Homo sapiens: one gene and its partners. The protein of the gene in region 3 interacts with the protein of the main gene of each other region in a biochemical or structural test. Each region holds a gene or a part of one and is shown on either strand. Other genes may lie near its edges.

Region 1 (5,964 bases), on a different chromosome or scaffold from region 3:
GCTGAGGTGAGCAACCCTTTTCTTTCCCCCAGTCCCCAGCTCCACTGGGGGTGGGGCAGCCTCCCTACGGGGTATCTTTGGGCCCATCCCTCCACCGAGCCCCCGCCTGGGCCTGGCTGCTGTTAATGAGCTCCGTGGGGACCCCGGCGCCCCCATGGGCCCAAGGGACCTGCCCTGAGTGCCGCCTAGGTGGGGTAGTAGTGCGGGGGAGGGGGACAGAAAGGGCAGAGAAAGGAGAGAAAAAGACAAACACAGAAAGGCAGAATGGAGGGAGAGAAAGAGAGAGGGGGTAGGGACGGAAGATGGACAGAGCCAGGAAAAAGAGAGGACAGACAGAGGAAAAGAAAGCGAAGGAGCCAGGAGAACCACAGAGAGACAGCTACAAAGACAGCAAGAAATAGGGAGAGCGGAGGGGAAAGCGAGTCCCGGAAACAGGCGCAGCTTGTGGCGAGGGTCCGGTGGCCGAGCTGAATCCCGGGGCTCCGGGAGACCCGGTCCCTGCGGGGGAGGCCTTTTCCGAAGCCGTTATTGGCGGGGGAGTAGAGAAAAGGGGAAAGAAGGGGAGTGGAGAAAAAGGGAAAGGAGCCGGCCCTAAGTAGCGAGGCCGAGGCCGGCCAGAGGCAAGGGCAGGGGGCGGCGGCGGGGGAGGCAGCCGTGGGGCCCAGGTTTGGCCGGCGCCCCGAACCCCCTCACTCCCGCCCCCAGTGCCCGGGGGCGGGTCGAGATTCCCCAGGATCGGATCCGGGGAGGAGCGAGGGGCCGAGGGGAGGGGGAGGACCCGGGCTTTCTCTCTCCTTTTTTTTTTTTTTCCTCTCAATTAGGCCGATTCAATGGAGCTAAAGAGCTCGTAAAATCATGAATAATTTACTCGTGATCTGTTATTAACCCATCGGGTTTCGAGCTCTTGTCGCTGGGACTGAACCTGTAATCAAATCTGACTTCGCCTCATTTTACTAAAGACGAGATTGTAGGTTCAATTGTCTAAATAATGGATTGGAATCAAATCAGTAATTACGCCGCCAGGCACACACACACAAAAAGCTGGGGCTGGGGGAGGCCGGGCGTCCGGCCGGTCCGCGCGGGACTCCCGCGGCCGCGGCGCGCAAACCCAGGCGCAAAGTGCGCGGCCCGGGCCCCTCGCCCGCTCCTGCCGCCGTTTTCGCACCCCCAGCCCGCTGGCAGCCCCTCCCGGGGTAGGGGGAGGTTTCCGTTCCACCGGGGCCCGGGCCCGAGGGGCTGCGGGAAGAGGCCGCTGCGGCCCCGCCCCGGAAGGACTTTCCGACCCCGCGGCCCGCGGCTCTGCTGTAAGCCCAGCGCCCGGCGCCCCGACGGCGCCCCCTCCCCACTCGGCCCCCAGCTCGCCGCCCTTCAGTAAGGTGCCGCCGCGCCTCGGAGGGACTGTCCCCAGAGCAAGAGGCTTTGCAAGGGGTCGTCGTGGCTGGGCCACAGGATGTGGGACACTGCCACAAACAAGCTCGTGTCCCCGTGGTCGGAACCCTGCACGCACACGCACACGACCCGCGCCCGCACACCCCGTCCGCGATCGCACCCTCCAGGGTCCCCGCTTTCCAGTCCTAGCTGCCCCGCGGCCCACACTGCGGCCATTTCTCTCCTGCCAGTGCGGGAGGGGAGGGAAGGGCGGACGCCAGATCTAGGAAGACTGGGCTGGGCCCCGAGAGGCCGGGGAGATGCCCTCTTTCCCCAACCTAGTCCCGGGAGCCCCGAAAGAGCCAGCCGCATAGCCACCGCCGGCGCACCGAACGCCGTTTCTCTCAGGACTAGGAGCCCCGGCCAAGGTCGGAGAGGAGGGCACGGGAACAAACACGACACACACAGAGACAGAGATAGAGAGAAAGGACGGAGAGAACGGAAAGGAAAAAAAGAGAGAGGGAGGCCAGAGAGAAAGTGAGATGGCTGAATGGAGGGTGTCTCTTGTAGAGGTTAAACAAGGCTTGAAATTCAGCCTCCAGCCCACCTCGCTGGGGCAAACGGCGGCTGAACAGCAAAAAGCAGAAATAAATCTCTGTACCTTCTACTCTCTTTTTGCACAATCCTAAAACCGGCGCCGAACCTCCGTGCCCAGGAAAACAATACAGCTCCCCAGCCACCAGGTGCCCTGGAGCCGAGCCCCGCGAGGTGCTTCCGAGTGGAAGTTGACCCACTTGATAAATAGAAGCGGCTTGGTGTTGGGGGAGCCGGTCTGAACTCGGTTTTGTCTTTTTTTGGGGGGTGGTAGGAGAGGAGGGATGGAAGTTCCAGAGAGCTACATCTGTGGTAGTGCCTTCAGCAAATCTTAAATCCGCGCCACCGACCGGCCTACCGCTGCTTCACCATTTACCAAACTGGGGGCTGCGTTTTCCTCCCAGTTCCGCACACAGGGACACACGCCCCATGATCCTCCAAGCGATTTCGTTGGAGCGAACACCCGCCCCTCATTTCCCTCTCTATTCAACTCAGATTCTTTAAGATGAAAATAACTGACTTCTTCCCGCCGTAGCACCCTCTGCACAGTCTTGGGTTTGTTTTTGTTTTTGCTTTTTTCTGCTTGTGCATTAGACTAAAGGGAAAAGGAAGAAGAACACAAAATCTCCAAATCTAATTCTGTTGCAAACGAAAGAAAGAAAATAATTGCACATAAACTCTAGTTCGGAAGCCCGGAGAGTCATAAACCTTTCCGGGCCTTGCAGACTTCGGGCAGATGTTGACGGCTCATTTGCCGGAACTCAGAACCTCTGCAGCTGTCCTGAGCAGGGAGGGGCGCGGGAGGGGGCAGAGCTTCTCCGGGAATGGCCTGGGGTTCAAAGATGCCGGAAATCCGAACCAAGCCCCCCACCTCACCCCACCCCACCCCACCCCGGCGCGAGGCCAGGCCTGCTCCGGTCTCGTCCCCGCCCGGGGGGCTCGCTTCCGAGGGTCACGGCCCTCACCCCAGCAGGCGCCAGGAAACTCGGAGGAAAAAGTCCGGGAAAACTGAGACCTGTCTTTAAAGGAGGATCGGGCCGAGCAAAAGGAACCGCAGCCTTTGCTTTCCTGAGTTCCCCAAGCCCGAGTTCCCCAAGCCTGCCGCCCTTGGGACATTTCACGAGGTCAGGCCGCACTCCAGGCCGAGCTCGGCGCCCCGGGCCACAGCCAGCCCTTTCTCTTGGGACCCTCGCCGCCCTGCCTCGTTCCTTCGCTGCCCCAGTTCCCGGCCCTCAGCCGCGCCAACCCAAAACCTGTTTGGCGTCAGCGCCGCCTTGCTTTCTCCATCCCTGCCACTTCCTGCCTAGCAAAGTGGGGCAAAGGCCCAAACCAAAAAGCCATCTCCAAAAAAACAATTTATCAGAGACAAGGCCCTGCACCCGGAGCAGCAAGGGACCACTGCACCCTCTCCTCCCGCTCCAGCCGAGGACGCACAGTCTGGAAGCCCAGGGGGCTAATGTCCCTTCTGCGAGGCCGTCCGGTGCTTAAGGCTCGCTATTTGCCCAGCACACAGAGATTCAATCCAGCTCCCGGCCGTCGAGGCCGCACACTTTCCCCCAACCCTATGGGGGCGCTTCGTGCGCCGCGCACTCACCAGCGTTGTAGGCCGCCAGATCCGCACCGGGGCCCGGGCTCTTACGTTTCCTCGGCCGCCCCTTCTGCACAGTGCCCACGCCATTGTAGTAGGGAAGACCCAGAGGGTTGGCCCCTGCTGCGCCCAGCCCCGCGCTCTTGGCCGCCGCGGCTGCAGCGGCCGCCGCTGCCACGTCGGCATGGTTGAAGTGTGCGGGGTACTCGCCCTGCAGCAGCGCCTCGAAGTGCAAGCGGCAGTAGACCAGGCTGTCCTTCATGCCGAAGTGGTCGCCCGTGGTCAGCATCTTGTTACACGTGGTGCACGTGAAGCAGTTGAGGTGATAAACCAAGTCCCGAGCGCGCATCACCATCTCCGAGGCCGAGATGCCCAGGTGGCAGCGGGCGCAGCGCTGCACAGAGAAGCGCCTGTAGGGACCATGGAGGGAGGGGCTGTGGGAACACACGGTTGGGTACCCCCCTTTTCCTCCTCCAGGTGCCGCTGCTGCTGCGGGGGGCAATCCCCTCCTCAAGACGAACAACCCGGCCTTTATTTGGAGGATGGGGGGGAGAGAGAACTAGATTTTGACCCAGGCCTGGTCCTGTCCTAAAATAGTTTCCCTTAACACACTTATGCCTACAGAGACTTCTACTTCACCCAGAGTCTCCGCAAGCCCTAGGAAAGCCTTTACCTGGGAGTGGAGGGAGACACTTACCACTTACCCCCTCCTCAACCTTTACTCCTCCCTCCAAACCAGCGCCTGGGAATCCTACTGACTTTTATAATTTGGAAGAAACACAGAGACAGGGAAAGAGAGAGAGACACAGACGTAGAGACAGAGACAGAGAGAATATACATAGACCCTAATCCTAAAACTGGGGAGAAGGAGAAACAGAGAACTTGGAGTCTACTAGTGATTCTGGTTCTTTGATCTTGGCCACCTTTCATTCCCATTTTCTCAAAAGACCTGGAAATGCACCCACTCCCACAGCTCTCTTTCCAGCTGTGTTTCACTCCAGCTTGGGCTGCCTAGGTTTGGGGGTGCCTGTTTCTATAACCTCGGATTAACTCAAGAAACTTCAAAGAGAGAGGGGAGCAAGGATCCCAACTCAAGCTTTTTTGTGGTCTAAGCTCCGAGCAGGAGGGCAGCTTCTGCTTTTTTTCTGGTTCTCCTACTTCGTAGACCTTTCCAAGAGCTCCCCAAATTGCTGCTTTAAAAGGTTATCACCCAACTTGTGGTGGCTTGGAGAACTTGGGGGGGGAGCGGGGGAGTCCTGAGTAGTGAACCCTCTCCTGGGACTAAACGGAAAGGAGAGGGCCAAACTGTAAGACTGTGCCTGAGATTGGGGGGAGGGGTCCTGAGGGGCAGTTGGGTGGGGGGGCTACCTGTAGTAGTCTTCCTTGCAGTAGATGCTACCGTCCTTGCTGAAACAGGTGAGCTCCGACTCCAGGTTGAGCTTGCACTCGCAGCACTTGAGGCAGCGCATGTGCCACTGCTTGTCCACCGCCAGCAGGTAGTAGCGGTCCGAGATCTTGCCCCCGCAGCCGGCGCACAGCGCGGCGCGGTCACTGCTGATGGACGGCATGGTCTGCGAAGGGAGGGAGGCGGAAGACAGCAGCGCCTGCGTCAGCCAGCGGCCCCTCCGCCGCCGGGAAACCGGCACCCACAACTCCCTCTGTGGCCTTGGCTACCCTGAACGCGGAGGGGGCTGCCAGGACATGCGGCGCGCTTCCCCCCACCCCAAAAGGCCCATTTCCATTTCTGGGCGGTTCAGAACCCAGGCCTGCCTGCGCAGCCCTCGCCAGCCACGGGCCCAGGCCGGGCTCCTGGCCTAAATGGCTCTGGTGCTTACCTCTCTTCCTTCCAGTCCTCCCTGTCCTTTCCCCCAAAATGCTCGGGCTGTGTTTAGGGACCAGGACAGCTACTCCAGTCAAGCCCTCCAAGAGCTTTCCCTAAACTGCTTCTTAAATGAGCCACCCGGGGGATAAGGTGACCATTAAGTCACCCTCCACACAGAATCCTCTTTGGAGAGACAGCGGAGTTCCTGGGCCCCAGCTCCAGTGATCCCTGGATCCTTAGACCAGAGGTTAAGGCCAGGACAAGTCAGCCAACTTCTGGCTCCTCTGCCACACGGGCTGGGGCCCTCTTGGGTCCGGGGATGAGGTAAGTGGGGTGCAGGGACACCCTCAAAGTCCGTGGGTGAAGGACAGGTTCAACCCAAATACTTCCCTATCCAAACTGACCAGCAGAGAAGGTCTAACCGAAGAAGCGCTCAGAGGCCGGGAGGACACTGGCGCCGCTGCTCCTGCTCCCGGAGCAGAGAAGCTTCTCCCGTGCTCCCCACCTCCGCGGCCTCCTAAAGGTCACTTCTGGGCCCGCTGGTCGGGCAGTGTCTGCTCGTCTGGCCCCCAGGGAGGCCTGAGGCGAGGAA
Region 2 (5,964 bases), on a different chromosome or scaffold from region 3:
TTTGGCAGTACCGCCCTCAACTTTGTTACTACTACAGGGAAGTTCCCTGCATATAGAGAAGAGTGCACAAAGGCAAACCAGTGAGATGCATACTTTGAGAGGGGGTCCCCTTGAATCCTCCAATATACACAACTGTTTACTCTGTGCCTTGGGCCAATTCTACTTTTAAGACCAGGTCTATACTAATCAAGGGACTAAACAAACCTGAACGTTGAAACACGTAATTCTATCAAAACTGAATTTTACTCAATTGGATTCAATTTGCATTTTTCTGGGTCTAATGTTGCAAACATTTTCTTCTATTTTCAGCTCCACTTAGCTAAGATAAACCTAGCCTATGTACATTTAAAGAGCTTGTTTAGATTTGATGAAGACACATAATGTTCATTTTATTGCTTATGTTGCTGTAAGGTGTAAGAACAAGAAAAGGCAGATGTGCAAATGATCACTTGCTAGTTACAAACCCATTTTAGGAAGATGTTGCCATATATTTGCACTTATTTTGTCAATAAAAGACAATTACGGGTAATAACACATTTCATAAATTTTAAGTTGTATTAGCATGATAAAATATACCCACAGTAATCAGCATTAACACATCAAAGTTTTTGTTGCTGTCATTACCTAAATTCAATCATGCTTGTATGTGAAATATTTTCTACTTTTCATTAAATCAAAGAGCATGTTATTAATGAAAAATATTGAGAAACTTCACCAACAGGTATGCTATGTTTTGAATGTGCTGCTATAGAGGTCTTCAAGTTTGGGCAATTTTGTTTGATTCCTGTGTCTCCAAATTTAAAAATAAAGAAAAGATGAGGAATGAATACAAAGCAAGAAAAGAAAAGCAGTGCTTTTGTTGATAATACAGTCTCTACAAGTCCCCAAAGTATTTTTAAAGTTTTGGATACTATCAAAATACATCTACTTATTTTGTGATAATACCCAGTGAAAACCTACTGTCAGAGTTCTACTGGTTCTCCTTATTTTCTCTTTGCCTAAACTCAAGTATCTTGGAAGCAATTTAATCTGCTGAAGCCATTCTAAGGGGTCACATAAGGCTGGAGGAGTGAATGCAGCTTCCAAAGCTATCGTTGTTAACTCTTGAATTGTGTTTTATCATCTGTGAATCTTACTGATTGAAATGTGACTGTCCATGGGACTCTTTGGATAACTTTAAATATTAGGGGGAAAATTCAAAGGAAATTATTATTTTTCTCATCTTAAACATGTGACTGTAGACTCCTTAAGAAACTAGAGGAATGTAACTGTTCATTTGTTCTTTTCCATACCAGTTTTACATATATTTTGGGGGGCAGACCTGTCATTGCTGTATCAGCATATGTCATGCATTTGTCAGCATATAATTTCAAAGAAAAGCCAATTATATTACAGGGAAATACCTATATTGTTTTTAACCTCAAAATTTGGTCAGTGTTTTTATTTTTGTAACCTCGGAGAGAGAAAGAGAACATAAGGTACTATATGTTCAGACAGTCTTTAAGTAGCAAAGATATATCCTCCCCTATAATCATCCATTCTGCCAAATTGATTTGTGCTTCTTTACCTATTTAATGTTTCTACACTACTGGTATGCCTGTTGATTTAATCTGACTATCCTCTTTCCGAATTGCATCAAAAATCACATATCGGAGTTTATTTTGAGCTGTTGAAAGTAAATGGTGAAACAGTCCATTGAAAGAAAGAGAAAACAGATTAGAAATTGGTTAAAAATACAAATATAACATTTGCCACCACAAGGCTTATCAGAAAAACTTCATAAACAAGCATCTGTCTTAAGAACTGGAAGTACCATTATCAGAAGTACTTTTTCTTTTCAGATATCTTAATAGACTGAAAAATAGGAATGCAAGGAAAAGAGCTGACAAAAGTTTTAACGCTAACACGAAGTGATGTTTCCTGTTTTCAGGAAGTGCTGGAGTCTCAGAGTCAAGAATTTATAGGGAATCCCGAGGGCGTGGTAGCAATGAACCCCACATAAAGCGTCCAATGAATGCCTTCATGGTGTGGGCTAAAGATGAACGGAGAAAGATCCTTCAAGCCTTTCCTGACATGCACAACTCCAACATCAGCAAGATATTGGGTAAGAAAACCATTAAGAACTAAGTGACGTATGGAATAAAGGTACTGTTCTGTTTTCTGCAGTTGTGGAAGGATCCTGGATTTGGAGGCCATACAGGTCGTGTTATTTGCTTATCCAGAAAATAAACATCATCATTGAGGCTTCTTCTGGTGATGAAGCATTCTATGTCCATTGAGAAATATGCCATATTTCTATAGCTCATGTAGCTGTTTGTCTTCATACTAATTATTTTAATGCTTTATCTTCTTCAAAAATCTAGAAATATTTTTACTAAAGCTGAGAAAAAAGTTGCTTTCACATGAGCCACTAGATATTGCTACTGATCATTTGTATTCATTTCCTTGCATACTATAGACAACTTACTGTTAATCTTAAGGCCTCCTTCCTCTCTCATCATCCTCTGTAACAGAAGGATAAGGAGTTTTATTTGCGGAATTCATCTTGTTGTGGGGGTGAGGGTGGAGGTGGGGAAGATGTTTGTTCCAGTGCTATAATTGAAAATCAGTTTTAGATTTTCAGAACACAAGAAGATGTAGAGTGTACATTTTTACATTTATACTTTTAGTAACCTTAAGTACTAAAGGTACTTTTAGTCATACTAAATACTTTTCTGCCATTGCAACATTCAATTGAACAGAAAACAAAGTACGCATTTACTCTACCCACACAGAGACTGTAGCACACAGGAAAAATGGTTGGGGAGAAAGGGTGCTGATTATAAAGATACCTATTATAGACCAGTTCAGGTCCCAGGGGGAAAAAGAAAAAAAGAAGATTCCATTGCTTTTGTGCCTTATCTGACATCATTATCACTGTCATTGTCATTCATCACTGTCTGATGGCCAGATACTAGACAACCTAAGAAAATTTTGATGATTCACTCTGTGACTTCTAAGAGTTAAGTGACAAAAATAGAATAGAAACATTTTATCAGAAAATGTTGGTTTTAACAAATAAGTAACAAAATTTGTCAAAATTATTAAAGTTTTATTAGAATTCGTAAGGCACTTGGAATTACACGGAGTTTATAAAAATAGTATCACTTTTGATTCATTACAGATCATCTATAAATGGCAAACATATGCATGAGGTTTTGTTTTGCAGATGGAGTCTCGCTTTACCGCCCAGGCTGGAGTGCAGTGGTGTGATCTCGGCTCACTGCAACCTCCGCCTCCCGGGTTCAAGCAATTCTTCTGCCTCAGCCTCCTGAGTAGCTCGGATGACAGGCGCGGGACACCATGCCCAACTAACTTTTGTATTTTCGCAGAGAGAGGGTTTCACCATTTTGGCCAGGCTGGCCTCGAAGTTCTGACCTCAGGTGATCCGCCCACCTTGGCCTCCCAAAGTGCTGGGATTACAGGCATGAGCCACCACGCCCGGCCGTATGTTTTTATGATCCCATATTCTCAACAAAGATAATAGATGCCACCTAGTCCACAAGGTGCATTTGTAATGGGATCAAAACAAACCATTAGCCACTTAAAATTGTGTCTCATTTTTCACCTAAATGTTATCTAAAAAGACATGAACATGCAAAGCTTTCAGTAGTATACATAGAAAATATGAAAATCTGTGTGTAAAAATATATATCATGCATAATCAAAAACTTGAACTGATCAAGAGGAAATACACATTTTTTTACATCTCTACCAGCTCTGATCTATTTTTCCCTTTTGTGACTATATTTTTTGTGACTATATTCTACCTTCCATGTGAAATTTCCTATCTTTAAAAAACAACATACCAGTTTCATTTGGGAAAACTCTAGAAAAGAATACTTTATGTAAGCATATTTCATGTTTTAATATATCAGTTATTCCCAAATTAGAAATCCAAAATTGTCAGAATAAAAACCAAGTTAAATACTAAGATTTCAAAACTGTCTTTATATTATTCAATTCTTGTGTCTGAATACCAAAAAGGTGATAATCATTAATTAAAACTATCTTAACTATAAGAGAAATATCAGTTTTGATGATAAGAAATGATATTTTAGGAAATGTAGCAAAAGTATCTATGGAAAAGAGATGACTGGCTATGAGAATTCCCTTCTGATTTGAGGGAAAGAATATTAGAATGACCATATGATTATATTATAATAGACAACATGAAAGAGAATACTGCCTAATTTCAGTCTTTCTGATGAAAATGTATTCTTTAAAGATATAACATTTATATTTAGGAACAAATAAAACATTGAGGTATTTTGGGCTCAATATTTAGTCACAGCTTTAAATAAATAAGTGATCTTCAAATATCCACAAGATCATTCTAAATGACCCATTTCATACAAAAGTACAAAGAAAGCTTGATGTTTTCCTCTTTGCTGATTGTTTTGGATAACAGCCTCCGACAGCATGCCGCTAATTCATTCTGCTTAAAACAGGCGCTTGAGCTGGGTTGACATTTTACGTAGTCTCTGGGGATCGTAGTTGACATTTTAAAGGGCTTCTAAGCATTTTATAATACCCTAAAATCTGGTTTTAATAAGCCATTCTGCTGAAATTGTTAACATAAGGAATCACCTTTTACTGCTTGGCGCTAGATCAGGGGAAGAGGGACATCTTTTTCTGATTAGATATACAGTAGTTTAGTTGGAGTAAAATGTGCAAATTCACTACAGACCCCACGGAGATGACAATGTTGCCCAGCGCAAACTCTTCACTTTCAGTGTATTGCCAGATTTAGAAAGGAAAGGAATAATCGTTGGACCTTATTTTTTCCCCTATTTTGAGCATCAAATACTTTTGATTGAAACTTCCTCTTTTGTCATCAGGAGGAAAACCCAATTGTCCTTCTCTGCTTTTTATTATTATTATTATTATTATTATTATTATTATTATTATTATACTTTAAGTTTTAGGGTACATGTCCACCATGTGCAGGTTAGTTACATATGTATACATGTGCCATGCTGGTGTGCTGTACCCATTAACTCGTCATTTAGCGTTAGGTATATCTCCTAATGCTATCCCTCCTTCTCTGCTTTTTTATTCTAAAACGACAACCTTTTGAAAGCAGCAGGGAATGAATAAACTCCCTGTACATCAGTCCAGAGTAAGCAGCCAGCCACCCCCAAATCAAGTAGATATTTTTTCTCTCTTTTTTTTTTTTTATTGTTGTTTATCCAAAATATTTTCCTGCCATTCTCATCAAGTATGTTTCAGGGGTTAGTTAACACCTCAGCTGCATACAATGGTTATAGTACCTGCAAAGCCATTGAAATCAAAACCAAACTTGTCAGTTGGTTAAGCTAATTCAAGGTTACTATTTTGAAAATGAAAACTGGATTTACCACCAAATGGAAACACTGCCCTGTACTGTCATAAAATATAGTAGTCAGTCAGCCATTTGACCCGGTTAGTACTTAGCCTATCTTTATTCTTAGTTTTGAAAAGACTTGGAATTATTATATGGCCATATTTTAAAGTGTAATTTAGGATTCAGTGATACTCTCAAAGAAATTATACTATCAAGAGTTAAACTATTTTATAATTCCCGTTCATGCCAGATTTGGAAGCCAACTTATCTGAGAATTTACACATCTTTTATTATCCCATTTCTTTACATACACGCATCTTTTTTTCCTCTTTTTTTTTTTTTTTAAGCCAGACCAGCTTTCTTTAAGTTAGTCTAACTCCTCTTTCCACCGAAAGACCTCAACTATTATATTCTTCCTCAATAGGATGCTCTTCTCTTTGTGAGCCCCACGGGAGTCATTTCTACAGCAAAGCCTTCCTGACCTGCAGAGGATTGATCTTGCCTCATCATATTCTCTTACCTTCCTGTACTTTCTACAACTATAAGGAAAATAATAAATTTTGTAATTAGATATTTAATGTATATTCCCTGACTGAATA
Region 3 (5,964 bases):
CTGAGACAGGTCCCCTGAGGGATGGAGACCCTTTAGGAATGTTCCTGCTCTGGGAGCCCACACTGTGGAAGGGAGGGGCCTTGGCACCTGAAATGTCACAACTAGATGCGTCCGAGTGCCGGAAAGAGACAGGAATTTTTTTTTTTTTTTGAGACGGAGTCTCGCTCTGTCACCCAGGCTGGAGTGCAGTGGCGCCATCTCAGCTCACTGCAAGCTCCGCCTCCCGGGTTCATGCCATTCTCCTGCCTCAGCCTCCTGAGTAGCTGGGACTACAGGCACCCGCCGCCACGCCCGGCTATTTTTTTTGTATTTTTAGTAGAGACGGGGTTTCACTGTGTTAGCCGGGATGGTCTCGATCTCCTGACCTCGTGATCCGCCTGCCTCGGCCTCCCAAAGTGCTGGGATTACAGGCGTGAGCCACCGAGCCTGGTCAGAGACAGGAATGTTATAAAGACGTGGATGACAGTGACCTCCCGTTTCCCGGGTATGTCGCATGGGCCAGACGGTTGCTTCACGCACATCCTACCCTTCCTCCTCCTGTAGCTCCCAAAGAACATTATTCACATCACCCCCATTGTGGAGATGAAGAAACTGAGGCTTAGAGAAGTTAAGTGATGTGCCCCAGGTTACACAGCACACAGAGCTAGACACGGGCAGGGCTGGGATCTGAACCCAGGTCTCTCCAATGCCTGAATCTGACCTCTTAATCCTAATGTTATACTGCTTCTAAAAATCCTACAGGTGGCCGGGAGCAGTGGCTCACACCTGTCATCCCAGCACTTTGGGAGGCCGAGGTGGGTGGATCACCTGAGGTCAGGAGTTTGAGACCAGACTGGCCAACATGGTGAAACACTGTCTCTACTAAAAATATAAAGATTAGCCGGGTGTGGTGGTGGGTGCCTGTAATCCCAGCTACTTGGGAGGCTGAGGCAGGAGAATTGCTTGAACTCAGGAGGAAGGGTTGCAGTGAGCCAAGATCTCGCCACTGCACTCCAGCCTGGGTGACAGAGCAAGACTCCATCTCAAAAAACAAAAATTAAAAAAAAATAAGAGGGGCCCGGCATGGTGGCTCACACCTGGAATCCCAGCACTTTGGGAGGACGAGGCAGGAGGAAAGATCACACTTGAACTCAGGAGTTCAAGACCAGCTTAGGCAACATAGTGAGACCCCATCTCTACCAAAAAAAAAAAAAAAAAAAAAAAAAAAATTAACGGCGCATGGCAGTATGCACCTGCAGTCCGATACTTGGGAGGCTGAGGCAGGAGGATCACTTGAACCTGGGAGGTCGAGGCTGCAGTGAGCCAAGATTGCACCCCGGCACTCCAGCCTGGGCAGCAGACCGAGACTCCGTTTCAAAAACAAACAAACAAACAAACAAACAAAAACAGAGGCCGGGCGTGGTGGCTCACGCCTGTAATCCCAGAACTTTGGGAGGCCGAGGCGGGCGAATCACCTGAGGTCGGGAGTTTGAGACCAGCCTGACCAACATGGTGAAACCCCGTCTGTACTAAAAATAGAAAAAATTAGCCGGGCATGGTGGTGCATGCCTGTAATCCCAGTTACTTGGGAGGCTGAGGTAGGACAATTGCTTGAACCAGGGAGGTGGAGGCTGCAGTGAGCGGAGATCGCGCCATTGCACTCCAGCCTGGGCAACAAGAGCGAAACTCCATCTCAAAAAAAAGAAAGAAAGAAAGAAAGAAAGAAAGACACCCCAGAGAGGACCCTTCTGAAGACAGAAAAGCAAGAGGATAAAATCTTCCTAGAAAACGACGCCATGGGAATGGAGACCCTACAGAAAGGAGACGAGTCTCCTGCAGAACCAGAAGATCCCATGGAGATGGGAACCTGGTTAAAAAAAAAAGTAACCTCAAGAAGGACCCCAATGAGAAGGGATCCGGCATCTCAGGACCTTCTAGAGGGGAAGAGGACAAACAGGGTCCCTACAGACGAGGGATTCTATGACAGATCCCAGGAAGAGGCGCCCTGTTGATCAGAGTCACTACTGAGTCCATCCTGCAGCTCGGGGACCCCACAGAGATGTGGCATTCACGGCCGGAGGGCAGGAGAGTCAGGCAGGGGACAGTCTCTGCCCTCCTTCGCCGCAGCGGAACCAAAGAGATCCGAGAACGCGAACCCGGACCGTACTTCCAGCCAAGCGCAGCTCGGGACGACTACAATTCCCAGGAGGCCCCGCGGCTCCAGGCCGGCTTCCTGCCCCGCGGCGCCCGCGCAGTGGCTGCCGGAAGACGTAGTTCCCGCCACGGTGACTCAGACCGGAAGGCCGGCTCCGCCCCCGCCACCAGCCCTACCTCCTTCCATGTCCTCCGTCCAGTTGCGGCTGCTACTCGTGGGCGAGCTGGGCGAAGTGTAGTAATCGCCGCCAGGGCTCGTGTCCACGTCTTCCTCCATCGAGCCCGATTTGTGCCGCTTGCTCCTTATGGGCGAGGGAAGGGGAGAGGCTGGTTACCAGGGAGACGCGGGGCGGGGGGCGCGACGGCGGGCTTTGCTACTTCCGGTCCTTAAGTGAGCGGGGGCGAGGGAGGTAGTATCGCGAGACATCGCGGGAGCCGCGGGCGTTCAGCCCGTTCCCTACGAACGCCTGTTCCAACCTGTCCATTGCTTGGATGGGACACCCGGGCCAGAGGCAGGGAGGGTCTCAACACAGGTCGGACACCAAGCTAGCATGGTGGAGACCAAAACCCAGGCAGCCTGGCTAATCTCCTGGCCACCTGTAGTCCTCAGAACTGCCTGTTAGGGGTATGATCCCATTTTATGGATGGGGAAACTGGGGCACACACAGTGTGACCTGCTCGAGGTCACAAAGCATATCTCAGCAACAACCTGTGTCTGCATTCTTCTGGGTGGGGAGGGTCCTAAGGGCTGGCTGAGCCGGCAGGACTTGAGGCTGGGGGAGCCCACGGTGGGCTGTCAGGGCTAGGGGAAGAGGCACGTGGGGCTGGCTGGGTTTTGAAGGATGAGATGAGTAGGAGTTTCTCAGGCCAGGTGAATCGTGAAAAGAGGTATTCCAGGGAGAGGAATGAGTCAGCTCGGGCCAGAGGGGATGGGTTGATGAATGGGGTCATGAAATGCCCAGAGGTGGGGACCTGGGTACTTACCCACTGGAGGAGGTGCTGGGCAGCGTTCTTCTGAGGCCAGTGCTGGCTGGGTTCAGGTCGTATGCCAGGTGCCCCTGCAGCTCCCCCAGGGAGAAGTTGGGTCCTGTTCCAGTCACCACGGGTGCTGCAGAGGGTGACAGAGGAGAGTGAGGCAGGAAGCAGTGCCCAGTGCTGCGGTTTGCTTTAGAGAGGTAGGGAAAGCCACTGGGTGCAGTCCAAAGGGGGACCCCCTTCCCATATTGGCCCGGTTCCTAGGGTGGCTGAAACCAGTTTTATTCTATGGATCAGAGGACCAAGGCCATGGGGAGAGGCCAAGAGCACACTGTGAGGCAGAGGTGTAGCCAAAGCTGGAGGCCAGGCTCTGCTGATCTGGACAGGGAAGGTGTCAGTCAGGGCTAAAGAAGGACAGCGCCCAGGACTCGCTGGGGTGGGATTCAGACAGTGTGTGACGGAATGTGCTGGGTCCCCAGCAGGTCAGCAGAGAAAGCAAGGGGACAGGAGGGGCGGGGTCCTTTGGGGTCTCCTGGGACAGGACAGTGGAGGCCCCAGGGAGGAGGAGGGATGCTGGGGCAGAAGTTTCCTTAGTTGCCATCCAGCATTTAGATTCTGTTTCCTGGAGAGGTGGGAGGGAGCCCTGACCTTGGGCTCTGGGAAGGGCCTGGCCACCTCCCTTTCTAGGAACCTTGGCTTAGTGACACAGGGGGTTGTCTGGAAAGGACAAGGAGTAGGGTGAGGGGGGTGGGCTCCTTCCTCCCTGCGGCCCCCTCCCCTCTCCAAGACCCAGCTCAGGGCTGACGGGAACACTCACTCCGGGACACTTGGATGAGCTCAGTGACGCTGAACACGCCGGAGGTGACAAAGCTCTCCTGGAAGTCGGTCGTGTCTGGAACAGGAAGACAGCGGGGTCAGTAGGCTGAGCTGGGCCTGTTTCCCTTCCCCACACTCCAGGGCTGCCTGGACTCCTGGGGGCTGGCCCGAGCCTGGACGTTCCCCCTGTCCATCCTGTGCTGTGGGGGAATGACAGCTCCAGTCTGATGGGGAAGGCCCCGTGGGGGGTCCTTGTCCAGTGTGGGCCTTCACACAGCCTTCATCCGGGTTCCCCCATGCTGTGGAATGCTGCATTCAAGTGAACAGCAGGCCGGGCGCAGTGGCTCATGCCTGTAATCCCAGCACTGTGGGAGGCCGAGGCAGGAGGAACGCTTGAGCTCAGGACTTCAAGACCAGCCTGGGGAACACAGCGAGACCCCATCTCTACAAAAAGTGTTAAAATTAGCCAGGTGTTGTGGTCCGTGCCTGTAGTCCCAGCTACTCAGGAGGCTGAGGCTGGAGGATCACTTGAGCCTGGGAGGTGGAGGCCGCAATGAACCATTGTTGTGCCACTGCACTCCAGCCTGGGAAACAGGGCGACACCCTCTCTTAAAAAACGAGTGGAGCCGGGTGCGGTGGCTCACGTCTGTAATCCCAGCACTTTGGGAGGCCGAGGCGGGAGGATCACAGGTCAGGAGATGGAGACCATCCTGGCTAACACAGTGAAACCCTGTCTCCTAAAAATACAAAAATTAGCCGGGCGTGGTGGCAGGCGCCTGTAGTCCCAGCTACCTGGGAGGCTGAGGCAGGAGAATGGTGTGAACCCGAGAGGTGGAGCTTGCAGTGAGCCGAGATTGCGCCACTGCACTCCATCCAGCCTGGGCAACAGAGCAAGACTCCATCTCAAAAAAAAAAAAAAAAAAGAGCGGAAAGCGGAGGCCTGGGCTCACATCGGCTCCATCACCTGCCTCGGTGTGTGATCTGGGGCAGGTCACTTTCCCTCTCTCAGCCTCCAAGTTTCCCTAATTGCAAAAGTGAAACCATCAATCCCATCATCGGGGTTGTCGTGAGATCTGTATCCAACTGCCTGGGAGGGGCAGCTGGCTTGCTTTACACACTGTCACCCTTCGAGATACTCTGGCTTCTTGTTCTTCTCCCCTTCAGACTGGGAGGTCCGTGTGGGCAGGGATGTCTGTCTGCCCCGACCCTGCAGTGTCCTTCGTGCCTAGACCAGAGCTTGGCACCCAGCAATGGGTCAGTTAAAATGGGGGGTTGAATGGGAGGCCCACAAGCCGCAGTTAAAACCCTCAGTGTCCCCAGCATTGCTCCTACCTAATATTAAAGGAAGGGAGACTGTCCTCTCGACTGGAGTGGTTTGGACCCATTTCACAGATTTGGAAATCGAAGTTGTCCCCGAGAGGTCGGGAGCCTTGGCCAACCTCAGACAGCTTGGGGACAGCCCTGTCCTGCCCTCGGACGCCCTTGTAGGAGGGATTCATGGACTCAACAGGCGTTTACTAAGCATCCACAGTGTCTGATTCTGAGCTGGGCCCCGGCACAGCAGGAGATGATACAGGCTGAAGCAGTTGCCCCTGTGAGACTCAAAGTCCAGTGTGAGCGACAGACAGCAGCCAAGATTAATAGGTCAGCAAAAGTCCACGAATGTTCCTAGCAGCACTGTTCACCACAGCTCAAACTGGAAAGCCACCCAAATGTCCCTTCAAAAGATGAAGAGATAAACACAGCGTGGTCTAGCCACACACTGGAATAGGACTCAGCCGTGAAAAGGATGCCGGGCGTGGTGGCTCATGCCTGTAATCCCGGCACTTTGGGAAGCTGAGGTGGGTGGATCTCGTGAGCTCAGGAGTTTGAGATCAGCCCGGGCAACATGGCGAAACCCTGTGTCTACAAAAAATACGAAAATTAGCTGGGTATGGTGGCTTGTGCCTATAGTCCCAGCACTTTGGGAAGCTGAGGCAGGTGGATCACTTGAGCCCCAGAGTTTGAGACGGGACTGGGCAACATGGCGAAACCCCATCC
Region 4 (5,964 bases), on a different chromosome or scaffold from region 3:
CATGTGCCCCATCCCTGGGCCCCTGCCCCCACTCCCCTAGAGACGAGGAAAGACGGACAGGTGGATGGACAATGGCCAGAGCAGGAAAAGGAGTGAAGGTGTCCCTGGCAAGATGAGAAGCCCACGGAGAAGAGGAGGAGTACTCTGGGGCCTAAGAGTTTGGCCCATGTGTAGGCTTGTTCCATGCACACCTGAAGGTGGCTCTCCAGGAACCAGGCTGCAGGTGTGGCTGTGTACACATCAGTATGGGCTGCCGGGTGACCTTGCATAAACAGCCTCTCTGGGATCCCATTTCCTCATCTGTCCAATGGGAATAACCACGTGTACTGCATAGGGTGGCATAAGGATGAAATGCTAGACCCATAGTAGATGCTCAATAAATGGTCGTTCCTCCTTCCTTTACACATGCACATTTTGTATATTTATATCTTAAAGCTGTGTACACACATTAGTGAACACTCACATATAAACCCCTCTCTCTGCGTGTGTGTCTATCCATATGCACATGCATGTGAAGCTGTGGACATGAATCCACGCATGGGTGGGCTCAGGTGTGTATCGCTGCTCAGTGGCCTCCACAAATCTGTGGTTTGAAGTTAGAAGACTTTGGGTCCACCATTGCCATGCTGTGGGATTTTGGAAAAGCTACCTCGCCTCTCTGAGCCTCGTTTTTGCACCTGCAACCTGGGGACAAATAACTTAGAGAATGACATGAATGAGGAGCATGCATTTTGCCCAGTGCCCTGTGGGATGAACTTGGGCAGAGGGCAGGTGTTAAGGGAGGACAGATGGACCTGGGCATAGGCGGGCACAGTCCAGGACATGGGACTCTTGCACACACACTGGGGCATCCCAGCCACAGATGGATTAAGTTGCCCAGGGATGTGGGGCAAGTGGTTAGCGGGAACATGATGTGTCTCAGGGCCTCCAAAATGCCAAAGGAGAGGGAGGTGGTGCAATGGAAACACTTTGAGACGGCTAAGTCTAATTCGTGGCCTCCATTTCACAGATGGGAAGACTGAGGCTCAGAGAGGCAAGTGTGTGGCTGCCTGCACTAATTGGGGGCAGAGGAGGGGGCTTTTCCTCCAGCCCTTCCCTCCCAGCTTGGGCCCAGAGTCTCTGTGGGGTGAGTTGGGGTCTGTGCTGGGCTCCCTTTGGGGAGGGCTGGAGAATGTGGCCAAGAGGAGCTCTGAGCTATTCCTGGAGAAGCCAGGGCAGCAGGGGTGGAGCTGGAAGGGGAGTGACAGGAGGAGAAGGGAGTGGAAAGAGAGGATGGAAAAGAGAAGAATGGAGTAGGGGGTGGTGGGGGAGGAGGAAGCTGCTCTGGCTGGCTTTGTCCAAGCAAGAGGAGAACAAACCCTCCTTTCTCGCCTCCTAGGCCCCTTCCCTTTTGATCCCCTCCCCTGCTGCCCCCATGCTGACTTTGGGGTTAATTTTATTTCCGAATTGAGCAGGCGCCCCTGGAGCAGGGCACCGAGCTTGGGTGTGACTAACGCCTGCCCCAGGCCGGGGCTGCCGCTGCCGCTGGGGTCACTCTAAAATATTTATCAAGAGCATGTGTGTCCTGCTGCATGCCCAGGAACACGGGCTGGGTCAGGAGGTCACCCTGGGACCCTCTGGAAATTCTCCCATGCACATGCGTGCACCCTGCTCTCAAATATACATGCAGACCCCCACGTACACATTCACACACACACACACACAGTTATACACACAGACACAGTGTATGTCTACACCCAGATGTACATCCATACACATGTACACACAGCCACACCTATGACATACTCAAACATACACTCATACACTCACCCCTATTTACACACTGCACACAGAATATGTGTCCACACACAGGTACTTCCAAACACACAATCACAGACACACTCAAGCATGTGTGCATGCCTCAATGCATGGCTATACACATGTACATACAGTCACATGTTTGCACACTCATATACATCTATACACACGCATACATATTCATTATACCTATCTACATATTGACATATGCATACCTATGCCAAACATGGAGGCACACATAAAGACACGCTCAACCATATGTACAGACTTGAATGCACATTTAAACATGTTTAAGCAGATACATATACTTACATATATGTGTGCACATGTGTGTTCACACACACAGATGTGCACATCATGTATGCACAATATGCTCATTTATGTGCACGCATGTGAAGTCATATACACATATGCTCACATGTGCCCACTGACACATACATGTATTCGCGCATATGCAAAGATGCATGCAATAACACATGGGTGCTGAAATAGAAGCATCACATGCACACACACACAAGAATTGTAACATGTCCCAACATACGTACTCACAAACACCCATACACACATGTGTACATACACATATGCAAACATGTACATGCACAGGAAGGGTTGTGAACACAGCTGGGAGGTGGAGGCCGACATAGCTGGCCCTCATTTGGCAGTGGCCCTCATTTGGCAGTGGAGGCCAACGACACGTGAAGAGGAGTGGGTTTGGGGGGGTGGGCAGGAAGCAGAGGTCAGAAAGGCTGGCCCAGGGCTGGGCTGGGGGAGAGGACACCCTCAGGGATGGGGGCCTCACCCTCTTGCCACACGCCCTTCTGATTAGTTTGACACCAGCAGGTGAGGCCTTTGCAGGGCGGTGGGGCAGGAAAGTGACCCATGACCTCTGGCTCCCTGTCCCATCTGGACCTGCCCTGCTGCTGGCCTTGCCAGGCGGTGGAGGCTGTGTCCAGGCCTGCGTTTTCCAGCCTTTGGTGTGAGGATCCACGGTCCCTGCCTCAAGGCAAGGCACAAAGGGGATAGCAGCTGGGATGGGTGCATGAGACCATTGCAGAGTTTGGAGTGGAGGAGAGAGTTGGAAACACAGCTTTCCCATGCCCTGCGGCAGAAGGGGCAGGGTCTCCCACTGAGCTGTCCAGCACAGTGGCCACCAGCAGCACATGGCTGCTGAGCACTTGAAATGTGGCTAGTGCGACTGGGAAACAGAATTTCAAATGCCGATTTCACTTGAACTAATTTAAAGTCAAAAACCAATCTTCAATTGGGTTATTTAGTAGTTGGAAAACTTACAATTTGGAACACTTTGGGTTTGTAAGTATATTTTCTCAGTTGCAAACTATATGAAATTTAAATACAGATCAAGTATTTCTGTTGAAAACTCAGTGTCCGAATTAAAATGGGCTGTAAGTGTAAAACACACACATGATGTCAAAGACATAGCATAAAGAAGAGAATGTAAAATATCTCAATAATTATATATGAATTGCATTTTGAAATGATAATCTTTTGGATGTACTGGGTTAAATAAAATGTTAGTAAAAATAATTCCATTGTTTCTTCTCCTTGATTTTTTTTTTTTTTTTTTGAGACAGAGTCTTGCTCTGTCACACAGGCTGGAGTACAGTGGCGTGATCTCGGCTCACTGCAACCTCCGCTTCCCGGGTTCAAGTGATTCTTGTGCCTCACCTACTTGAGTAGCTGGGATTACAGGTGTGCGCCACCATGCCTGGCTAATTTTTGTATTTTTAGTAGAGACAGAGTTTCACCATGTTGACCAGGCTGGTCTTGAACTCCTGGGCTCAAGTGATTCGTTTGCCTCAGCCTTCCAAAGTGCTGGGATTACAGGCATGAGCCACCACGCCTGGCCTGTTTCTTCTTATGTTTTAAAATGTGGCCACTAGAAATGTTAAGTGATATTTGTGTTGTGTATTTTATTTCTGTTGGAGCCATAGTACGGAAGCAGAGGCTTAGCCAGGAGATGTCCTGGGTTTTGCCCAACTCAGTGTCATTTTAGGTGAACTGTTCCATCTGGCTGGACTTCAATTTTTCCATCTGTGAAATGGACATTCCCCACCCTGACACCACCTTGTAGCTCTCCATAAACAAGCAGGAGGCCCTGGGGGTGGGAGAAGGAATGGGGACGGGGGACGCCCAGGGCACCAGGCACTCACTCTGGCCGTACTGGCCGTACTGATAGCCGGCCACGGGGTCCACGCTGTAGCCGGTGGTGCTGTAGGTGGGTGGGCAGTAGGCCTGGGAGGTGGGCAGGCTGTCTCCTGGCTTGATGGAGTCGGCCCGCTGGCTGCAGCTGGCTGAGATGGAGGTGGCCGAGTCCAGGCCGCCATGCAGCGGGGAGATGGAGAAGTCAGCCTGTGGCTGCGGGGGCACCGCACTGGGGTTGCCCAAGATGCTCATCACCTGTGGGGAAAAGGCCATTAGTGCCAGGCTCACCGGACAGACCCCAGAGACACGAGCACACTGGGCACAATGCCAGGCTGGCCCTGGAACACTCTTTGCCAGAGTTGTTCCCTTGAAGTCTCTGTAGCTTCGAGGTCCTCAGTTTACCTGATTTGCGTGCCCTCATGCATGGGATGGCTGCTGGTCTTCGGTGTTTCTCTTGAAGGAGGGTCCTGACCCAGGGATCCTCCTTCCACTGAGAACTCAGCAGGGCCTTACTCGCCTCTCTAGCTCCAGGGTCTGGCCCTAAGGGTCACTCTGGGCCTGTCTATTGAATGAATAAATGCATGAATGAATGCATGAATGAACGAACTGGCTAATGAGGCCTCTCCCATCAGTCAGGGAGTTCTCCAAGCTCAGAGAACTGTGCCTCCCCCATCAGACTGGGATGGCCCCATCTTCTAACACAAACATTACAGCAGGACTCTTGATCTGTCTGCTGTCACTGTGTGTGGCTTGCTCTGCCTGCCACTCCTCCGGACTCTGAGGTTCCTGCCCCTTCGACACTGAAGCCCACAGCCAATGCTTTCAAAGAGCCTCTCAGGCCCCTTCCTTTGATTCTACCAGCTCCTGAGGTCTGTGAGCATCCCCTCCTTCCCTGCCTGGCCAGGTTCCGCAAATAGGAACTCACTGTCAGTGCTGGCAACACAGACTACCAGGGGAGGCTTGTCTCTAGAAGCTCAGCTTAGGGGACCTGGATGGAGGTCCAGGTGTTCACTTACTGGGATGTTCACTTGTTTACTCCACAAACAGGCATGGATGGTGACTCTGGCCCCAGGCTGAGAGCTGAAGGCTCTGAGACTTCAGAGGAGAAAGAGCCATGGTCCCTGCCCTCGGTCGGGGGAGAGGAGGAGGAAGGGTCTGGGTCGGGTGAGGGAAGCTACTAGCAAAGATCATAGAGACATGGAGTAGTGATACAGGCATCTTATCTATCAAAGGACACAGAGGAGGGCACCCAGTCATCCTTGGCAGTCTGGGAAATCTAGGGGAGGTGGAACCTGCTGTCTAGCTCTCCAGGAAAGAGGACGGGGAGAAGCAGTGCTTTCCTGGGGTGGGACTGGGAGTGGTGCAGCAGGAGCTCCTGGAGAGTGGGAGGGCACAGTGTCCCAGTCAGTTCAGAGCAGAGCAGGGGAGAGGGCAGGAGAGAGAGGGCACAGTGTCCCAGTGAGTTCAGAGGAGGGCAGGGGAGAGGGTAGGAGGGAGAGGCAGGCCCTCGTGAACCTAACCTGCAGGGCCCAGGCCCCTGATGACCTCCTGGTGATGCCGCCCTTTATGGGAGGAAGACCCTGAGTATGAGGTGGGGACGGCTTTGCTGATAATCTGCCCAGCACCGAGACGGAGAACCACGTGGCAATCCCTGCTGGGCACACAGTTGAGTTCCCTGACTCCCCTTACAGGGTAAGAAAGCAGGCTGCGGGCATTCGAGCAGTGATCGTTTTGCCGACTAGACACCTTCTGAAGATTTTTACCTTTGCCTTTATTATTGGCTTGTGCCACAGGCATTGAGGCCTGGCCACAGTCGAGGGCACTGATGGATTCCTCGGGCTAGGGACAGACAGCGAGCTCCTCCGTTTACCAGCTGTGTAACCTCGGGAGTATCCCTGAGCAGTTAACTCATTTGACTCTCCCAACCCAAAAGCCCACAGAGATTTGTGGGGCAAAGCTAGGATGCCCATTTCCCAGATGAAAAACTGAGGCCCGCAAAGGGGC
Region 5 (5,964 bases), on a different chromosome or scaffold from region 3:
CTACACTGCAAACCATCATGAATATATTCAAGCCATGCCTTGCTAGCCCCAAAACAAATAGCCTGTTCCACAAGAGAAAACCATCTCAACCTAGTAGTTCAGTGGTAGATAGAAAAACCAAACGTGATTTAATGTTTCAGCTGTCTAATATTTCACTTGCTATTTGGGCATTGGTTGTGAGACTCTATTTCCCACATCTCAGTTTCAGGAGCCCTTTCCCCTTCTCTGGACTCAACTGCATGGCTGGGGAGCTGCACTGGGGATAGCTGCACCTGAAGCTGCTTCCCCTGCAAGAATCTGAGCTCTGGACACCTGGCTTGGAGGGGCGGGGGAAGTGTGAGAAGAAACAGCAGGGATGCAGAGAACTGGCAGGTCGGATGAGCATTCTTTTAAAGGACAGGAAGTGAAAAATAAATTATTTTCAGTGTACAGATGCTCCTTAACTCACAACAGGGTAATGGCTCGATAAGTTGAAAATATTGTAAGCTGAAAATGCATTGAATACAGCTAATCTATGGAACATCATAGGTCAGCCTAGCCTACCTTAAACATGCTCAAAACATTTACAGTTGGCCAAAGTCATCTAACACAAAGACTATTTTATACCAAAGTGTTGGATATCTCATGCAATTTATTGAATACTGTATTGAAAGTGAGAAACAGAATGGTTGTTTGGGTACTTGAAGTATGATTTCTACTGGATGCTTGTCACTTTTACACCATTGTTCTCTTCTTAATATAAAAACTCCAATTCCAGGTAGACACAAGGAGGGGGTGAAGATAGACTTGAGTATTAAGAGGCAACCTGCAGAGTAGCTATTGTTGGACACCTAAGAAGCTGGGAGCGGACAATGGGGCTCTTTCATCAGTCCTGCTAAGAAGACTGGGAAGCAGGACCCCTATCCCATGTGGGCTCATAGGAACCCCCTTTTCAGAGGGGTTTTAGGGGGTATGGAGTGTGATTAATCTTCCACACCAGTTACTACTATTGTTCCTCTTTCTGTAGAAGCTGTAACATTCTAGTCCGCAAGCACATGCCATCATGCATAGTCACACTCTCCCATGTGCACCAGAACAAGCCCATTTCCCAAATGCTGTCCAAAACACATGTTCCCTACCACCTCAACTTCCAACATTGCCTGTCATTCCCTGGGTCTATTTTGCACAATACTCCCCATCTAATACCAACATGCATATGAAGCTATTGCTCTCCCCTGCCACATCTCCACCCCTTCCCTAATCTCCCCTACTCCAGGCACCCCTGTTTCCCTTCTCTAGGGGCTGCTCCTGTTTGGCCCCATCTCCACTTGGCTAATTCCCCCTGTGGCCCCTCTATTGAACTGTTGTGTTGTCCATTTCCCTGTGACAAGGGCTCTGGTTACAGAGTTATTGATTGGTTTTCATGCAGACAGATGGGCCCTTCCTGGGCTCCCATCGAAATCTCTGGCTGTATGGGCTGATTGTTGCCTCTCAGGGTGTAGGATTGCACTGGAGACCACCCTCCACGCAGCCTCCTTTGCCCAGGCCATGAACGGTAATAAATGGAGGCAGCCTGAGCGATAATAAAAGCAATTGAGTAGGTTACCTGTGCAGACACAAGATTTATGCCTCTTCATATTTGATGTGATTGTTTTATTGAGTTCTCAGAACAGTTGGGACACTATTTATTTATTCATTTTGGGTTTTCCCTCTCTTTTCTTCTTTGCGTCACCTTCTGAAATGCACCTGGAGCTGTTGTCAGGCCCAGTGCCTCCTGTCTGCCTCTTCTCGAGAGTTGCCAGCTGAGGTAGGAAGGCAGGGCAAGCAGCAATTGCTCTCACCAGAAACCCCTTTTGTAGCCTGAACACCCACAGAACCAGCCAACAGGGAGACAGTCAGACCAACAGGACTGTGGGCCAGGAAGCCCAGGCTAAAACAACTACAAAAACAAAAAGAGGCTTTTCAGGAGGACAACTCCAGCTCATTTTAAGGAATGAGAATTTCAACCATCATGCCTGTTTCAAATGTTATTCCAATGATGGGTAACCTCACAGTAGGGGACTGTCTCTGGGAAAGGACAGGTGAGCGAGGCTTCTCTGACAGAAATTGGCATGTTGGTCTGCTATTTGTGGGCCCAATCTGCTAGGCTCAGGCCACAGAAGGTGAGTTCCCTGTCCTTGTTTCTGCCATTCCTCTGTGGATAGAAGTCTTTTTCTGAACTCTCCAACTTGCCCTGTCTCTTTGCCATGAGACCAACAGCCCTGACCACCAAACAGCTACAAAGATATGGAGATGTGGTAGGCAGTACCACCCCTCTGGCCAAGCTTCATGCCAAGCCAGGTCCAAGAGTAGAATAGGCAATGTTCTGGAACCTGAGTTTCAGAGAGGGAGAAACAGACCCTAGCCCGGAACATATCTTCAACATTCACGGGGCTAGGATTAATAGCTCCCAGCTTATTTGGAAAGGTCTTTGAACGAACAACTAGTAGACCATTGTCACCCCACTGCCTGACCCAAGGGGAACAATGACCTGAGAATGACTCAAAGACCTGAGAATGACAGAAGAGGGACACCCAAATGATACAGGATGGAATTCCTTAACACAGCCCTGGGTTGCCACTGCTAGGAGAATGAATGTACTCACCTAGAGCCTAACAGGCTAAGAGAGAGTGTGGATAGTGGGAGATCCGTGAGAAGTTGATTCTGCCAGGGTCCACTCCAAAGATCTAGGGGCAGAGAGTGCCCTGACTCCAAAGAGTGTTAGGCAAGCTAAAAAAGTTAGAAGGTGACACCCTTATTGTCAGCTCTTCCCAAAAGAGCACCCTCGGGGGATTGTCAGTAACCCCAGACTCTATTTGGGGTCTGTGCCTGTTCTTTCAAAGGAGGTGTATTCTCTGCCCAGAGTAACAGCCAAACCAGAAGATTTTGGCATATAATCAGGAAAATCCCTCCTGCTTAGACAATTGCTCAGCTATGTAACTAGACGACTTTTTCCTTTTTCAGTAGCATGGATCTCCCTCCACCTCTCCCCTCTCCAGGCCATGTCCCACACCAGGTTTCAATCTAAAGTCCCCTGTTTATAAACACCTGCCCTTTACAGCAGCGGTGTACAAACCAAAAAGCTGGCAACTCCATGCTCAGCCATTGGTAACCCAATGTTTAGAAAGATTCAGATAAATTCCACATGCTAAGGAGCCCAGTCAAGCCTTGGGATTTTTGAACGTGGTTTGTGGCAGTGGGGAGGCCTTCCTGACCCAGTCCTCTGGTTCAGAGAGGCATTTCTGAGGATTTGCTAGTGGAGAATACAGGCTGGATGGCCAGGCCTTTATCACAACAGAATCAGAGAATGCCAAAACCATTTTTAAAGAGTGAAAAAAGCAATTTAGTTTATAACCATAACAGCATATTTCAAGTGTGGCGACAGCATCTGTTTTGGGAAGGAGAAGATGAAAAACCACTAGCTCAGGTGGGTGAGCATGTGTGGACTTCTTTTCTTGCCAACCACCAGCTCATGCACAACCTTACTCATAACTGTTATAAAGTACCCAACACAAGTGGGCAGGTCACTACCAACAAAGCTCTAAACTCAAGAACCACCCGTTCCCCGGTGCACCACACTTTGTGCACACAGGAAAATCTCCGGGCTCTTCCTACAGTGAGTGAGAATTCCCAGAACTGATAAAAGGCAAAGTTTCTGATATAACCAGCACTAGCAGAAACATCCTGTTTTTATCAGGCTTTTGGGTGAAACAATACATCTCAGATAAACCTTCCCTCTTCAGAGCAAAAAGCACCTACAGGGATGAAGATGAGAGCGTGGTTCCCCAGGTGGATTTCTCCAGCCCCAACTCAGCAGCACACAGGGAAGCCCCCAGAATTCTTTCCAAAATATGAACCATGAGAGGATTCTGGACAAAAGCAAAATTGGGAATAGTTTTCCTGCTCCTTGTAGACAAAGCCAGCCATGAAGCCTAACTACGGACCCAGGGTAGGCTGCCCGTGTTGTTGGTGGCTTACCTGTTCCTCTCCTCCTACTCCCTCTCCATCTCCAGCAACATCTGCCCACAGATGGCTATTTCTCCACACCCAAAGGAAGCCTGTGTGCCCCTCAGGTGATAGGGCTCTGTGCTGGGCAGGTTCTGCAGCTGTCACAGCTGTCAAGCTGAGGCTACTCTTTCCCCACCCTCATCTCACTTGTGGCTCACTTGTCTACTTTGTCCTAATTCTGGTGGGTGCACCTCAAGACCTCTGGAGCTTGATCCTAGGGTCACCTGGCCCTTGTTCTCCATGGCTTTTCAGGATAGAAGTATTTCCAAACTTATGCCTAAGCCAGCTTCCAAAATCATCTCAGCCAATGAGGAGTGCATGTTGTTGAGGGGAGGGGCAGGGGGTGTTGGACGGGGCCACCACACCTGACTTGTTGCGCCACTCCTCTACCCCATTCAAGAGAAACAAATTACCTAAATCCTACATGACTTGGGTTTCTCCAAAGGCTTGAAAATTCTGTTACTGACAACAAGCATTTCTCTTAAATGTTCTGCAGAAGACCACTACCCAGTCCCAGCAACACTGCACACAGCAGGGCCACTCTTGGCCCTTGGCTGTTCTTCTCTTGAGATCTCAGTTCCAACTCATGCCCAGGACCAGCAATCAGCCAAGAGACTGAGTCTCTACATGGCTCATAAAACAATGCTTTGTCCCCTTCCCCTCCCGAAGTGCCACTCTTGCCTCAGCCCAAAGCTGCCCCAGCCTCCTCTCCTGGCTTTTAAAGCAAAGGGCTTATTCCTCTCCCAAACCACCCAGCGTCTTTCTCCAGCTCCTTTGGAAGGTATCTGAATGTCAAATCGCTATGCTTTCAATACCTGGCTGAGCCAGGCCGAGGGAGCTGGAGGGTTTTCGGAGGGTGTATAATTAGCTGATCAGTATTATGTTACCCTGTTCATAACTGAATAACCATTTTAATACAGATGGCACACACTGGGATAATTTCTGGGGTCGCCTCGCAGTACATTACAGCACGAGTGTGGCAGAGGGAATCTTCTTTAGCCAAGGTACATTCTACCAGCTAATTTTACCTGCTGTTTTCAGGATGATTTGGGATAATTCCATATCATTTGCAAAATATTTAAAAAATCCTTTATATGTGATGCCAATTTCAGAATAAGGCACCATGTGAATTATTAGTTGCCCTGATAATGAGCTTATGAAGAATGCAAAAAATAACAAAGGTATGAACTGCTTAGCCCTCTTTTCATTTTGGGGTGTCTCAAAATGGGGGGCCAAGGCTGGTGTGTGACTTGTGCAGGGACTCTGTGAACAACTGTCAGTTTGTACAGTTCTGTGATCTTGAAACCAGCCTGGGTTCCTGAGCCCAGTGCTGCTTGTATGTTCTGTAGCTACCACAGATAGGCATATTGGCACACTGGCTAGGGTGGACATGCATGGAGTGTGCACATGTGTTCTCCCCGAGAGCACACTGGAGGGGTTTGGAGACCAGGAGACCTAAATATCCTACACGTCAAGCTGACTCAGCCCTGTGCTGTCCTCACGTGTGTGAGCCTGTCATCAGTGCAAAGACTTCAGCCTGGAGACAGGCACCTTAGGTGGTTGAGGGTATCACCCAAGGTTCAGTCTCAAAGTCTGGAGTTCTCCCTCCCTGCTTGGCACTCCCTCCTTGTCCAGCTCCTCTACTCCCTGCCAGTTGCTGGCTGGTGGTTGGCATTTGTTCTGCAAGCCCGGATCCCAGTGCCTACAGGCCAGAAATTTGTGTGGAGCTGGCTAGCAAGACCAGACTCCTGGGAGGTGAGCTTTGTGGGAGTTGGCAGGGAGGGTGAGGGAGCCAGGACAAGCGGCGGCCCCTGGGGAAGGAGCAGCCTTTAGAAAGGCCAGTCTGTTTGGAGGGATGAATAGACACTGGTCATTTTAAAGGCTCCGGCTGCAGGCTGTGATTGTCTCAAGATCCCAAGGCTGGATGCTCGTAATCTT

The links.
Region 1: the proteins of NFIC (region 3) and LHX2 form a complex in vitro, tested with the Homo sapiens proteins (one study listed by BioGRID).
Region 2: the proteins of NFIC (region 3) and SOX5 form a complex in vitro, tested with the Homo sapiens proteins (one study listed by BioGRID).
Region 4: the proteins of NFIC (region 3) and PAX7 form a complex in vitro, tested with the Homo sapiens proteins (one study listed by BioGRID).
Region 5: the proteins of NFIC (region 3) and PAX2 form a complex in vitro, tested with the Homo sapiens proteins (one study listed by BioGRID).

Annotation. Positions count from the first base shown.
Region 1 is NC_000009.12:124,013,118-124,019,081, reverse strand, and holds part of LHX2 (LIM/homeobox protein Lhx2), read right to left. Parts: intron 5,122-5,964; coding exon 4,919-5,121; intron 3,961-4,918; coding exon 3,557-3,960; intron 1-3,556. UniProt on the Homo sapiens protein: Acts as a transcriptional activator. Stimulates the promoter of the alpha-glycoprotein gene. Transcriptional regulatory protein involved in the control of cell differentiation in developing lymphoid and neural cell types.
Region 2 is NC_000012.12:23,539,351-23,545,314, reverse strand, and holds part of SOX5 (transcription factor SOX-5), read left to right. Parts: intron 1-1,930; coding exon 1,931-2,104; intron 2,105-5,964.
Region 3 is NC_000019.10:3,431,554-3,437,517, reverse strand, and holds part of NFIC (nuclear factor 1 C-type), read right to left. Parts: intron 4,001-5,964; coding exon 3,926-4,000; intron 3,242-3,925; coding exon 3,118-3,241; intron 2,436-3,117; coding exon 2,311-2,435; intron 1-2,310.
Region 4 is NC_000001.11:18,733,883-18,739,846, reverse strand, and holds part of PAX7 (paired box protein Pax-7), read right to left. Parts: intron 4,216-5,964; coding exon 3,969-4,215; coding exon of another isoform or gene 3,808-3,968; exon of another isoform or gene 3,709-3,807; intron 1-3,708. UniProt on the Homo sapiens protein: Transcription factor that is involved in the regulation of muscle stem cells proliferation, playing a role in myogenesis and muscle regeneration.
Region 5 is NC_000010.11:100,751,166-100,757,129, reverse strand, and holds part of PAX2 (paired box protein Pax-2), read right to left. Parts: intron 1-5,964. UniProt on the Homo sapiens protein: Transcription factor that may have a role in kidney cell differentiation. Has a critical role in the development of the urogenital tract, the eyes, and the CNS.